Linked DNA regions of Homo sapiens. The protein of the gene in region 1 purifies or fractionates together with the protein of each later gene. This does not show direct contact. Each region holds a gene or a part of one and is shown on either strand. Other genes may lie near its edges.

Region 1 (3,786 bases):
AGATCTAAATGTGCAAGTTAAAACAAGAAAGCTTCCAGAACTACAGCAACCACTAAACAGATGTGGTTATTTAAGCTTAAATTAATTAAAATTAGTAACATTAAAAATTGAGTAGCCCAGTTTCACTAGCCACATTTCAAGTGCTCAGTAGCTACACATTCCATATATGCAGATAGAGAAAATTTATAGCATGTCAGAAAGTTCTATTGGATAGCAATGTTATAGAAGAAAACACAGGAATATATCTTCATGACTTGAAGCAGGATATGTTTTCTTTAAAAGGATAGAAAGAATACTAAATAAAAAAGACAACTTTGGCTGGGCGTGGTGGTTTAGGCCTCTAATCCCAGCACTTTAGGAGGCCAAGGCGGGCAGATCACTTAAGGTCAGGAGTTCGAGACCAGCCTGGCCAACATGGTGAAACCCTGTCTCTACTAAAAGTATAAAAATTAGCCGGGTGTGGTGGTGGGTGCCTGTAATCCCCGCTACTCGGGAGGCTGAGGTGGGAGAATCGCTTGAACCCGGGAGGCAGAGATTGCAGTGAGCCAAGATTGTACCACTTTACTCCAGCCTGGGCAACAGAATGAGAATCTGTCTCAAAAAAAAAAAAAAAAGATAATATTGATAAATTGGAGCTCATTAATTGCTAATCAAAAGACACCATTAAGCAGTATGGAATATGTGTAAATACTATACTACTATGAAATAATCTCGTTTATATTTTTAAGTGAAAAAACTCAAAGTGGGGAAGAATGTGTATTGTATGGAATAATAGATACTAGACTTCTCTAAATATATTTTGTTTTATAAGTTTATTTTGGAGCCATGTAAATATTTCACATAATTATAAAAGAAAATTAAAATTTAAAAAGCAAGCCCTAAATTTGAAAGCGACTTGAAAAAAGCCTAGCTCTGTATCTAGCTGGTGGCTTAACTACACAGAGAGGAACTTTTCCAAGATACTTTAAAACACAATAATTTGACTGTACATGCCTACTGGGCATTTGTAAGGATGTGCCTTATAAATGAAAAGAATGACAAAAACTTAAACTGCTACAGTATCATATTATTTCTGTAGTGCTGAAATTGTTTTCTAAGTCCATTGTTTGAGTCCCGTGGGATAACAAATGAGTAATTCTGTTGACGTTAATGAAAACTGGGATTTGACGTATGGGAGAAATAGGAATGTAAGATTGATGAAGTTAAGTAAAAACCTCGGAGTGCTGAACTTTATTAGATTAGTATAAACATGTGATGTATTTTATCTTTTAAAAAATAGACATCCCTTAGCTCAGTAGCTGAAGATACCTAGAAACAGCAACTGACCCAGCAGCAATAAGCACACCTGTTGTTGAGATTATATCTCTAAGTATCATCTTTCACTAAAAATAAGTGAAAGCTCTTTGAAAAATGGCTGATTCTGGGAAAGGAAATGTACAAGATAATCTGAACATCTTGTAATACCAGAAATCAAGGAAGCATTCAAAAGACTATTAAGACTCACATGAAAAGGATTCAGGGTGTTATCACTGGGGAAAAGTGGGTGACAAGCACATGGGATCTCTCTATACTAGTTTTGTAACTTTATGTGAATCCATAATTATTCCAAAATAAAAGGTTTAAAACAAGATACACAAACACACTCACAAAGACTCAGGAGCAAAGCTGAACAGTTCCCAACTTGCCAAAGTTAGCATAATTTGATCATTAAAAAGATAATTGACATGGATTGGGCCATATCAAATATGTTTAAGTCAATGAGTTCATAATGACACCTAAAAAAGGCCTTGGTCCTTTTTGTAAGATGGCCAGGAATCAATTCATTGTTTTGAATACTGCTAAACAAAGGGGAAGAATCAAACATTTATCCTGCCTTTCCTGTGTGAACTGTACCTCAGGCTAATCAAATAGTTGAAGACCCATTACAGAAATGTTACAATTAATTAAAAAAAAGAAGAAATGATAGAATTAGAACGGTAGCTCTCGAAGTGTGGTCTATGGACCCTTTGGGTGTTTATGAGGTGAATATAATTTTCAAAATAATGTTAAAACATTATTTGCATTTTTCACTATATTTACACTTGCATTGATAATGCAAAAGCATTGGTGGGTAAAGCTGGCCACCATAGAACCACAGAAGGAGTCAAAGCAGTGGCTCCACACTGTACTGGTGGTTATTACATTCATGATTGGACATTTGCAGTAAGAAAAATACCAGTAAGAATGCCCTTGATGAAGCACTGATTATTATTAATTTTGATAAATCTCCACAATTAAGTACAAATCTTTTAAACATTTTGTGTGAGGAAATAGAAATGAAAAGTATGTTTAGAGTACTTCTGTTGCACACTGAAATATAAACATATAAGGAAGGAAATAAATTAATAAAGTATGAAAATTAATAAAATAGAAAGCAAACATACAACAAAGCGAACCCAAAACACCAAAAGTTAGCCTTGGAAAGACTAATATCATTAATAAACTACTTCCAAGTCTAGTCAAGAAAAATGAGAGGTGACACTAACACCAGGATTGAAAAGGGAAACATCACTACAGATCCTGCAGATGTGAAAAAAAGTCACAACAGGACATTATAAACAACTTTATGCCAAAATATTCAAAAGTACAGATAAAACTAACATATATCTGAAAAAATTAAAGGTACAGGAATGAAATAGGAGCAATAAAAATACAAAGAAATTTGATCTCAATTAAAATTTTCCTACAAAGAAAACTGTAGGTACAGAGAGCTTCACTAGTGAATTCTACCAAATATTTAAGAAAGCTGTATCACCAATCTCAGTAAATGTGTCCGAGGAATAGGAAAAAAAATGTGAGAGAGACAGAGAGAGAGACAGGATTTCCAACTTGTTTAACAGGGCCAGCCTAACCTAATAAGAAAAGAAAAAGACAAATCAACCTAAAAACCCACTATTAAGACTTCTTAATTGGTTTTTATTTTATATTAACATTATTTTGAGTTTAAACAAAACAGCTGTAGTCTTTGCTTAACAATTCTAAAGAATAACCATAATGTGTTTGAATTCAGAGTATATTTTGAAGGTATGTCATTAGAGTGCCCCTATGAACACAGAATATCTGTAGATGGTAACCAGATGGCTCTAGGAACAGCCAAGGAATTTGGGATGGGTTAGAAATAAAGTGTTTATCTTTCTCTACAGCACAGGAGAATACGAGATTGCATATTTATTTCCAGATTCCAAAACAAGTTCCAAATGAATATATAATAACCTTTTGTGTTTATAGTCCTTTCTTTTTCATAAATGCAATATAACAGACATGTAATTTATTTATATCCTGAACCATTATCTTATGCCATCAATTAAAATTGGGAACAAAATGAGTGGCTATCTACCTTTATTATTTAGCTTTGTTTCTTAAGAACAACCTTTACCAACAAATTCCTTACTTCCCATAATACTTTAGTCAGGATCCTGGACTGTAATCCATATTCACTTGAAGTTCTGCCAAGTGTTAATATTTCCGATATTCATATGACATGCATTTGAGCATTGTAAAAACCTTTCAGCAATTTAGTCCACCTTCATTCCAACCTAGCTAAGTTAATTTAGTTGTTGAAATATTATTGTTTCCCTCTAACTGAAAATATTGAAGACAACAAAAGACAATAAGTCATTAACATTATGAGACACATTGTCAATACTTTCCCACTTATATGTTTCCAAGGTATTGCTTTTCTCTTATGTCCACTCAAATTATAATGTTCTTTTTCTTTCCTTTTTACTGATTTGAGGGTCTATATTA
Region 2 (3,786 bases), on another chromosome or scaffold:
CGGCGTTATATGGGAATTTTTATTAGAATTTTGGACCCAGCGCAGTGGCTCACGCCTGTAATCCCAACACTTTGGAAGGCCGAGGTGAGAGGATCGCTTGAGCCCAAGTGGTTGAGGCTACAGTGAGCTATGATCCTGCCACCGCACTCCAGCCTGGGCAACAGAGTGAAATCCTATCTCAATCAGTCAATCAATCAATCAATCAATGTATAATTTCCCTAATCTGTAAGAATTCATGTGACTCAATGATTTAAAAAAAAAAAAAAAAAAAACCTAACCTCTTACTAGGAGTGAAGAAAACCTAGGAGAACCAGTGTACAAACAGTGTCTGTGTCATGAACAGATTCTTGACCTCATTCACAGGAAGAGAAATGCACATTTCGAGGAGTTTCCACATCTCAGTCCTTGACACTTGCTATGGCCTGCTCCCTGTGGCTGGAAGGGCCATCTCTCCTCTAGGATGGAAGTTCTCCAACTGCTCCTGCTCAGCCCATTGCAGTCCTGTCTCCCTGGCCTATCGTCTCCAACTTCAAATCCTCATGGGCTCAGTTGTGCCCCTCCTCAGTATTTACAACTTCTTCCAGGTGGACACACTCAAGACAGCGGCTTCAAGCATCACCTATGTGCTAGGGTCCCCAAATGTGTACTGCTAGCCCTGCCACACACTGTCCCCTCAGAGGCCAAGTTACCCTGAGCAGTTGAATTTGGTGCCTCGATTGTCCTCATTCCCCACACGTCATCCATCCACACCCCAAATATGTCTTGAGTCCTTCCTATTCCCGTCCTGCTTCCTGGTCTTGACCCTGGACCACAGCAATAGGAGCATTTACAGATGAGTTTGTGTCTGCTTCACGCTGGGTTCTTCCTTCTCCATGCTCTGCTCCTGGCAAGCCCACATGTGCAATGTGAGGGTTTGCCCTCAGGCAAGCCTTTCCTGTGGCCCTTAGTCATGGAAAAGAAATGCAACTTTGTAAATGGATTTTAAAAGCCACTGCTTGCCACACTTGCCTGCCCTGGAAACCTTCATGCAGCAATCAATTCCTAACTCATACACATGGGGGAAAAGGGGGAAGAAGTGCGAGGCGAACACAACAGTCAAGCACACTTCAGGCCAGGTTCCTGCTGCATCTCTGGGGGCTCAAATGACCTTACGGGACACCACATAACATCCCAGGGGAGCGCCTCACACTCAAGGCCCTCCACCTGCTTCCTGTCTTGCTCCGGTTCAGTCCAGGAGTGGGCACTCAAGATGTACATCCGATGCTGGTGGCCCTCTGCTGAAAACTTCTCAGGGACATCCATCACTCATGAAATAAAATCCAGCTTCATCTGTGTGGGATCTGACCCCACGTGTCTCTCTAACTTCCTAACCCTCCACTCCCCACAGCAGCCCCCTGCTGTTGCTCCATCTTCTCCAACTCTTGCCCCCTGGCAATTGTTCCAGTGGAACCCTCCTAGGAGCACTCTTCCTGGCTCTCTGAACCTCTGGCCCTGCCCTCCTCCGGATGTCAGCCCAAAGTCACCATTGCCTGGAGGCCTCACCAGCCCCATCTCTGTCCCACTCAATTCTCTCTCAAGGTTCCTATCAGTTTCTTTGGCTGTCTCATTCATTTGTGTGTCTTGATACCATCCTAGCAGGAAGGCTCCAGAAGGACAGAGCCTTGAACTGGAGGCACCCAATGCCTCTCTGTGGAATAAAGAACAAGGAAGTGCAAAGGAAACAGACTGGAAGCTCATGGAGACAAGGGGAGGAGGGGCAAGGATTAGAGACCCATCTTGAACATACCAGGTGGACACAATCCCTCTGAGGGGCTGGACCTCTTTTGTTGTGGGGCCGCTCTCTGCTGGGGAGCTAGGTCTTGTTGGGTGATCAGAGCAGACTCAGCTGAGACCTGTGGGGACAAAGCAGGGATGGGCATGAGTGGCTTCCAGACCTCACCCCTCCCAGGATCCACTCACATTCTCTTGAGCCCAGGCACCCAAGCTAAACAGAACCCTCATCTTTCTTGCAGCTCTCACCTCTCAAACATCCTTTAGTGTTTGTTTGTCCCTTCATATTTCAGGGAAGGCCAAGTAACATACACCTGCAAAACTCTTCTAAACATGTTCATTCCAGAAAATGTGGGCAAGGAAAGTTTTTACAAGAATACACAGACCACACGTGATATTCTCAGCTAAAGATAGCATCCATTAATATTTTGTCTCATTTAGTTCCACTATTTTTCCATAGGTATGCCTATTCTCTCTTTCTCTCTTTCTCTTATTCTCTCTCACACAGACATACACACAGACACACATTTTTATAAATGGGGGTTATAATATAGCAAACTTAAAAAATTGGGATACAGGATCAAACATTAAATAGTGAACTTCTGATTTAAAAGGTGCCTGACATATAGACCAGAGAGCCCAGAAATGAACTTGCACGTACAACCATGTATTGCTCAACATTGTTCTGAGCAAAGGGTCATTAGGCAATTGTGTTGTGTGAACATCAGAAGAGTGTACTTACACAAACCTAGATGGTGTATCCTATGACACACCTGGCCTATATGGTATAGCCTTTTGCTCCTAGGCTACAAACCTGTGTAGCATGTTACATAATTGCATGGAGCCACCATCACATATGCAGTCTGTTGTTGACAGAAATGTTGTTATGTGGTGCATGACTGTATATGATCAAGTAATTTTTGGCAAAGGTATAAAGACCATTTAATTGAGAGGACAATCTTTTTAAAAATGGTCTTGGGAAATCTAGACATTGACTCATCACAAAACAATGACCTCGGACCTTTAACTTACACGTATACAAAAATTAACTCAAAATGGATCCAAAATCTAACATAAAAGTGAAAACCCTAAAACTTAGAAGAAAACATAGGAACTATTCTTCCTGACCTTGGATTTGGCAATGATTTCTTGAATGTGATCCCCAAAACACAAGCAATATAGGAAAAAAAGTAGATAAATTGCACTATGTAAAAATTAAAAACTTTTGTGCATCCAATGATGATCAACAGTGAAGGGGCAACCCACAGGAAGAGGAAAACATTTGCTAGTTGTATATCTGATAAAAGGTTAATATCTAAAATATATAAAAAACTCCAACTCAACAACAACAACAAAAAGCCAACAATGTGATTAAGAAATGAACAAAGAACTTGAATGGTAACAAGCTCCTGAATAGCCAATGTGTCAAAGAGGAAATCAAAAGGGAATTTTAAGAGTATATTAGAAAATGAAATGGAAACATAACATAACCAAATGTATGGGATGCAGCAAAAGCAGTTTTAAGAGGAAATGGCAATAAACGCCTACATCAAAAAAGAAGAAAGATCTCAAATACAAGACTTAATGTTGTACCTCAAGGAAATAGAAGAAAAGATACACTAAGCCCACAGTTAGCAGAACAAAAGAAATAATAAAAATCAGAGCAAAAATAAATAGAGACTGAAAAAAATACAAAAGATTATCAAAATTCTGTTAGTTTTTTGAAAAAATAAATGAAATCACTAAACTTTAACTAGACTAACTAAGAAAAAAGAAAGAAGACAAATAAATTAAATCAAAAATGAATGAGGAGGCCAGGTGCAGTGGCTCATGCCTATAATCCCAGCATTTTGGGAGGCCGAGACGGATGGATCACTTGAGGCCAGGAGTTGGAGACCAGCCTGGCCAACATGGCAAAACCTCGTCCCTAATAAAATACAAAAAAAAAAAAAAAAAAAAAAAGCCAGGCATGGAGGTGTGCATCTGTAATCCCAGCTACTTGGGTGGCTGGGGCAC
Region 3 (3,786 bases), on another chromosome or scaffold:
CTAATATTAGAAAGGACAAATAAGAAATAGGCCAGGCGCGGTGGCTCACACCTGTAATCCCAGCACTTTGGGAGGCCAAGGAGGGCAGATCACTTGAGACAGGAGTTCGAGACCAGCCTGCCCAACATGGTTAAACCCCCTCTCTACCAAAAATACAAAAATTAGCCAGGCATGGTGGCGCATGCCTGTAGTCCCAGTTACTCAGGAGGCTGAGGCAGGAGAATCACTTGAACTGGAAGGCTGGGGTTGTGGTAAGCCAAGATTGCACCACTGCACTCCAGCCTGGCCAACAGAGCGAGACTCAGTCTCAAAAAAAAAAGAAATAGGCAGATAAAGTAAACAGATGTGATATGTGATAAGGCAAATAAAGAGTAATCCTCTCGGCACCCTGTTAGTTTCTGTCCGAGCACGTATGACAATCTGTAATTATGTTGTTCATTTGACTACTTACTTTATGACTATAAGCTTCAGAAAGGCATAATCATATCTGTCTTCATGTTTAATAATGTATCCCAAGCACTTACCATAGTGTCTAGCATGTAGTTCAATATTGATTTGTTAAGTGAATGAATACCTATTTCACCCTCTTTAATTTAGGGTGAGTAAAGTGAAATCTTAATGGCTGTCAAAGGTCAAAGAAGAGTCAGTAGGAAAGTAGGAATTTGAATGACAGACTCTTAAGTTTTAGTCCAAAATATTATACCACATTCAAAATATTGATCTCAAAGTACAGTCATTGAATAGCTTTGTGTTTTCAAAGCTTAAAGTAGCTGGTACCTAAAAAACAGACTTGAGAATCTTTCAAAACTTTACTTCTACTAAAAAGTTTTAAAACACTTAAAAAGTTTAAGAGAAGTTGTCCAAGAAAAAAAGATATTTTAAATTCCCACTAATAAATAGAGACGATTTAGTCCATTGTTTCTTTTTAATGCATGCTAAAACAGTGAGACCTTAAAGAACTCTTTGTAAGGAACCACGATATCTGAATATTCTAGATATTTATTGGCAGCTATCTGGCTCTCTATAATGATATGTTCTTTGGCTGTATCATTTAGTCAGAGTATTATTTCACATTAACTGACTGATAAGTAACCTGCAAATGTAAATATCCCCCAAGAACCAAATCTATATTTTTTAATGTTTTACATACCATATCCTTTTAAATGGGACTTAAAGATAGATTAAAAACTAATATGTAAGATCTACTCTGGACCAGCTACCATGTTATGTGGAGTTATCAATTCATTTAATACATCTTGGTTTACAAATTTTAAAAGTTAATCTCAGAGTTTTAGAAATGTGCCAAGATCTCATAACTTGTCCATGCCCCTTCCTCTTGAAATAATGCCTTGGAGCAAGCTTGATATATCACATATAGTTATGAAGATGGGAAGAACAATAAACTTTTCCTTTAAAATAAAAATTTTAAAGTTAATAATCATAACTACGAAAACTCCTCCCTCTAAGCTTTATAAATAGGCTTACTTTTATTACAATATGTAAAGACTTGATTCATTTTTAAAATCTTTTGAAAGGCAACCCCTCCCCACATGTGTAGCCAGTCCTTCTAATGTAGTAACTCTCTTCTTGCTTTACATTTATTTTCTTTAGCAATATTAGAGAATAAAGTAATTCCCAGTGTGACTACAGCCAACCAAAGAAAAAACTAGTCCAAAAGAATGGTCACTGAAAAGTTTAGGTTTCAAGCGTGAATACCATATACCAAATTCAGAAAAGCATCTAAATCTACTTCCTTAGAACAGTGTATTTTACTGTAGGGTCTCATACAGATTTCAAAGAATATAATCTGGATGACCAGTATGAGTAATTACTGAAATTTGACCATCATTTAAACATAAACAACATATTGAGCCACTAATGTTTAGAATTCTTTAACTAGACTTCACAATGAAGACATATCCATCATACAGTGTCTGCCTCTTTAAGAGAATATTACGTTATCATGTTTTATTATGTACTCTTATTTTTCCAAATACATGTCTTTATTTCTATTCATGCTTATCATCTAAAACTATATCTATCTGTAAACTTTTTTAGTTATGAAGGCACTTTCAATTTTCCTCTGGCTCATTACTTCCTTACCAATTTTATTTAGTAGTGCTACCATTCTACCTTAGTCTTCGAGTTGCTTTTCAGTCCTATATCCACATATGGGGTATTTGGGACATACATCAGGATATGTATCATCCACTCTTACCTCCTCAGTTTTAATTACTTTTCATTTGAATTTAAGGGTTAACCCCCTGAGATTGTCCTACTTCTTCAAGCAATTGTGAACTCTCTTCATCACACAAATCTCTTCCTCAGATTTAGTCAAAATTTCTCCATCCCACCTTGCCTTCATCCATGGTCAAGTTTACTCTCAAATGGCTATTGTGTTCCTGATGCTATTTTGTGTCTTTTCCTTCATATTAACATCCTTCCTAATCTCCGTCTAAGACTTTTTTTCCAGTACTAAGTCCAGCAAGTCTTTCCTAAATTAAAAAATCCCAACTCCCCAAAATTACAATCTAATGTTGTTTCAGCGCCTTCGTGTGTGCTTAATTTATTCGACTAGTCCAAAAGAGAGAAGACCTTAATCAGGGAAGAGCCATGTTCTCCCTTGAGACCAGTTTTCCCTATATTCTATACCTAGGCACACAGTCTCTATTGTAGATTAATTAATGACCATATTTTTCAGTGCATATATTTTTCATTGCACACATTTACATATGAAGCTTCCTTTTCCACTAAGAGAGTACTGAATACAGGAAATAAGGATTGTTGAACTAGGTCACTGGTTTTAGGGATTTACAATCCATTAGTTGGTCAATGAATCAATTAATGGGTCACGATCAATGTTTTTTAAATGAAATGTAATATAAAAATACATAAGTGTCCTGCACATAGTTAAGAGTACACAGTTCATGAAACTTTCATTTCTGATGCACACAGACATATATACATACACCCCTACTACTACATGGGAACTAAGTCATAATGCAATGTGTAATTCCTATTGTGTATTACAGTCAAAAAAGTATGAAAGCCATGGAACATGAGGATACCTAAGATCCCCTCTAAATCTATATAATTCAAATTCTAATTTTAATTATTTAAAAAAATTTAAATTTGAACATAACTTAAAGATATCAAAACAATGAGCAAAATCATCTTTTCTTAATAAAATGTCACCACTGAACTCTAACCTTAAAATTATAGAACCATAAAGCTTTCAGAGTAGGAAAAAAAATCAGGGATCATCTAATCCAAGTTCACCACTTCAATACATTAAGAGGACAACCGTGGCTCAGAGAAGTGAAATAATTTCATTTCATTCATTTAATAAACATTTGCTGAGCACCTATTGTGTACCAGGTTCCAGGAATGGGTGTGTGGATAAAGGAAAGATGTCTTCAAAGAGTAGAAACAGGAAAGTAAACATTTGCACAGTCTAAAGTGGAAACAGGCAAGTAAACATTTGCAATTATTACTGAAATCAAGGTCATTTACAAGGTGTTAGATGAACAGAAAGCAACTAACTCAATCTGGGTTGAGTGACAGAGAAAATGTTTCTAAAGAGGTGATACTTCTCAGTCTTAAAACCAAAAAGGGGTTAGCCAGGTAGAAGAGGAAGAGTAATATGTACAAAGGCACCATACTGATATACAATAAAGGATTACACATTTAAGAAACTGCAAGTCAAGTCTGTATGGATGGAATATAGTACTCAGGCTGAGGAGAAGCTGCAGCAGAATAACTAGCATTTAATATTCAAACCACTCT

The links.
Region 2: the proteins of PCDHAC1 (region 1) and TNFRSF10B purify together in Homo sapiens (affinity purification with mass spectrometry; one large-scale study listed by BioGRID and IntAct). This does not show direct contact.
Region 3: the proteins of PCDHAC1 (region 1) and ACVR2A purify together in Homo sapiens (affinity purification with mass spectrometry; one large-scale study listed by BioGRID and IntAct). This does not show direct contact.

Annotation. Positions count from the first base shown.
Region 1 is NC_000005.10:140,932,723-140,936,508, reverse strand, and holds part of PCDHAC1 (protocadherin alpha-C1 isoform 1 precursor), read right to left. Parts: intron 1-3,786. UniProt on the Homo sapiens protein: Potential calcium-dependent cell-adhesion protein. May be involved in the establishment and maintenance of specific neuronal connections in the brain.
Region 2 is NC_000008.11:23,041,352-23,045,137, forward strand, and holds part of TNFRSF10B (tumor necrosis factor receptor superfamily member 10B isoform 1 precursor), read right to left. Parts: intron 1,893-3,786; coding exon 1,787-1,892; intron 1-1,786. UniProt on the Homo sapiens protein: Receptor for the cytotoxic ligand TNFSF10/TRAIL. The adapter molecule FADD recruits caspase-8 to the activated receptor.
Region 3 is NC_000002.12:147,851,423-147,855,208, reverse strand, and holds part of ACVR2A (activin receptor type-2A isoform 1 precursor), read right to left. Parts: intron 1-3,786. UniProt on the Homo sapiens protein: On ligand binding, forms a receptor complex consisting of two type II and two type I transmembrane serine/threonine kinases.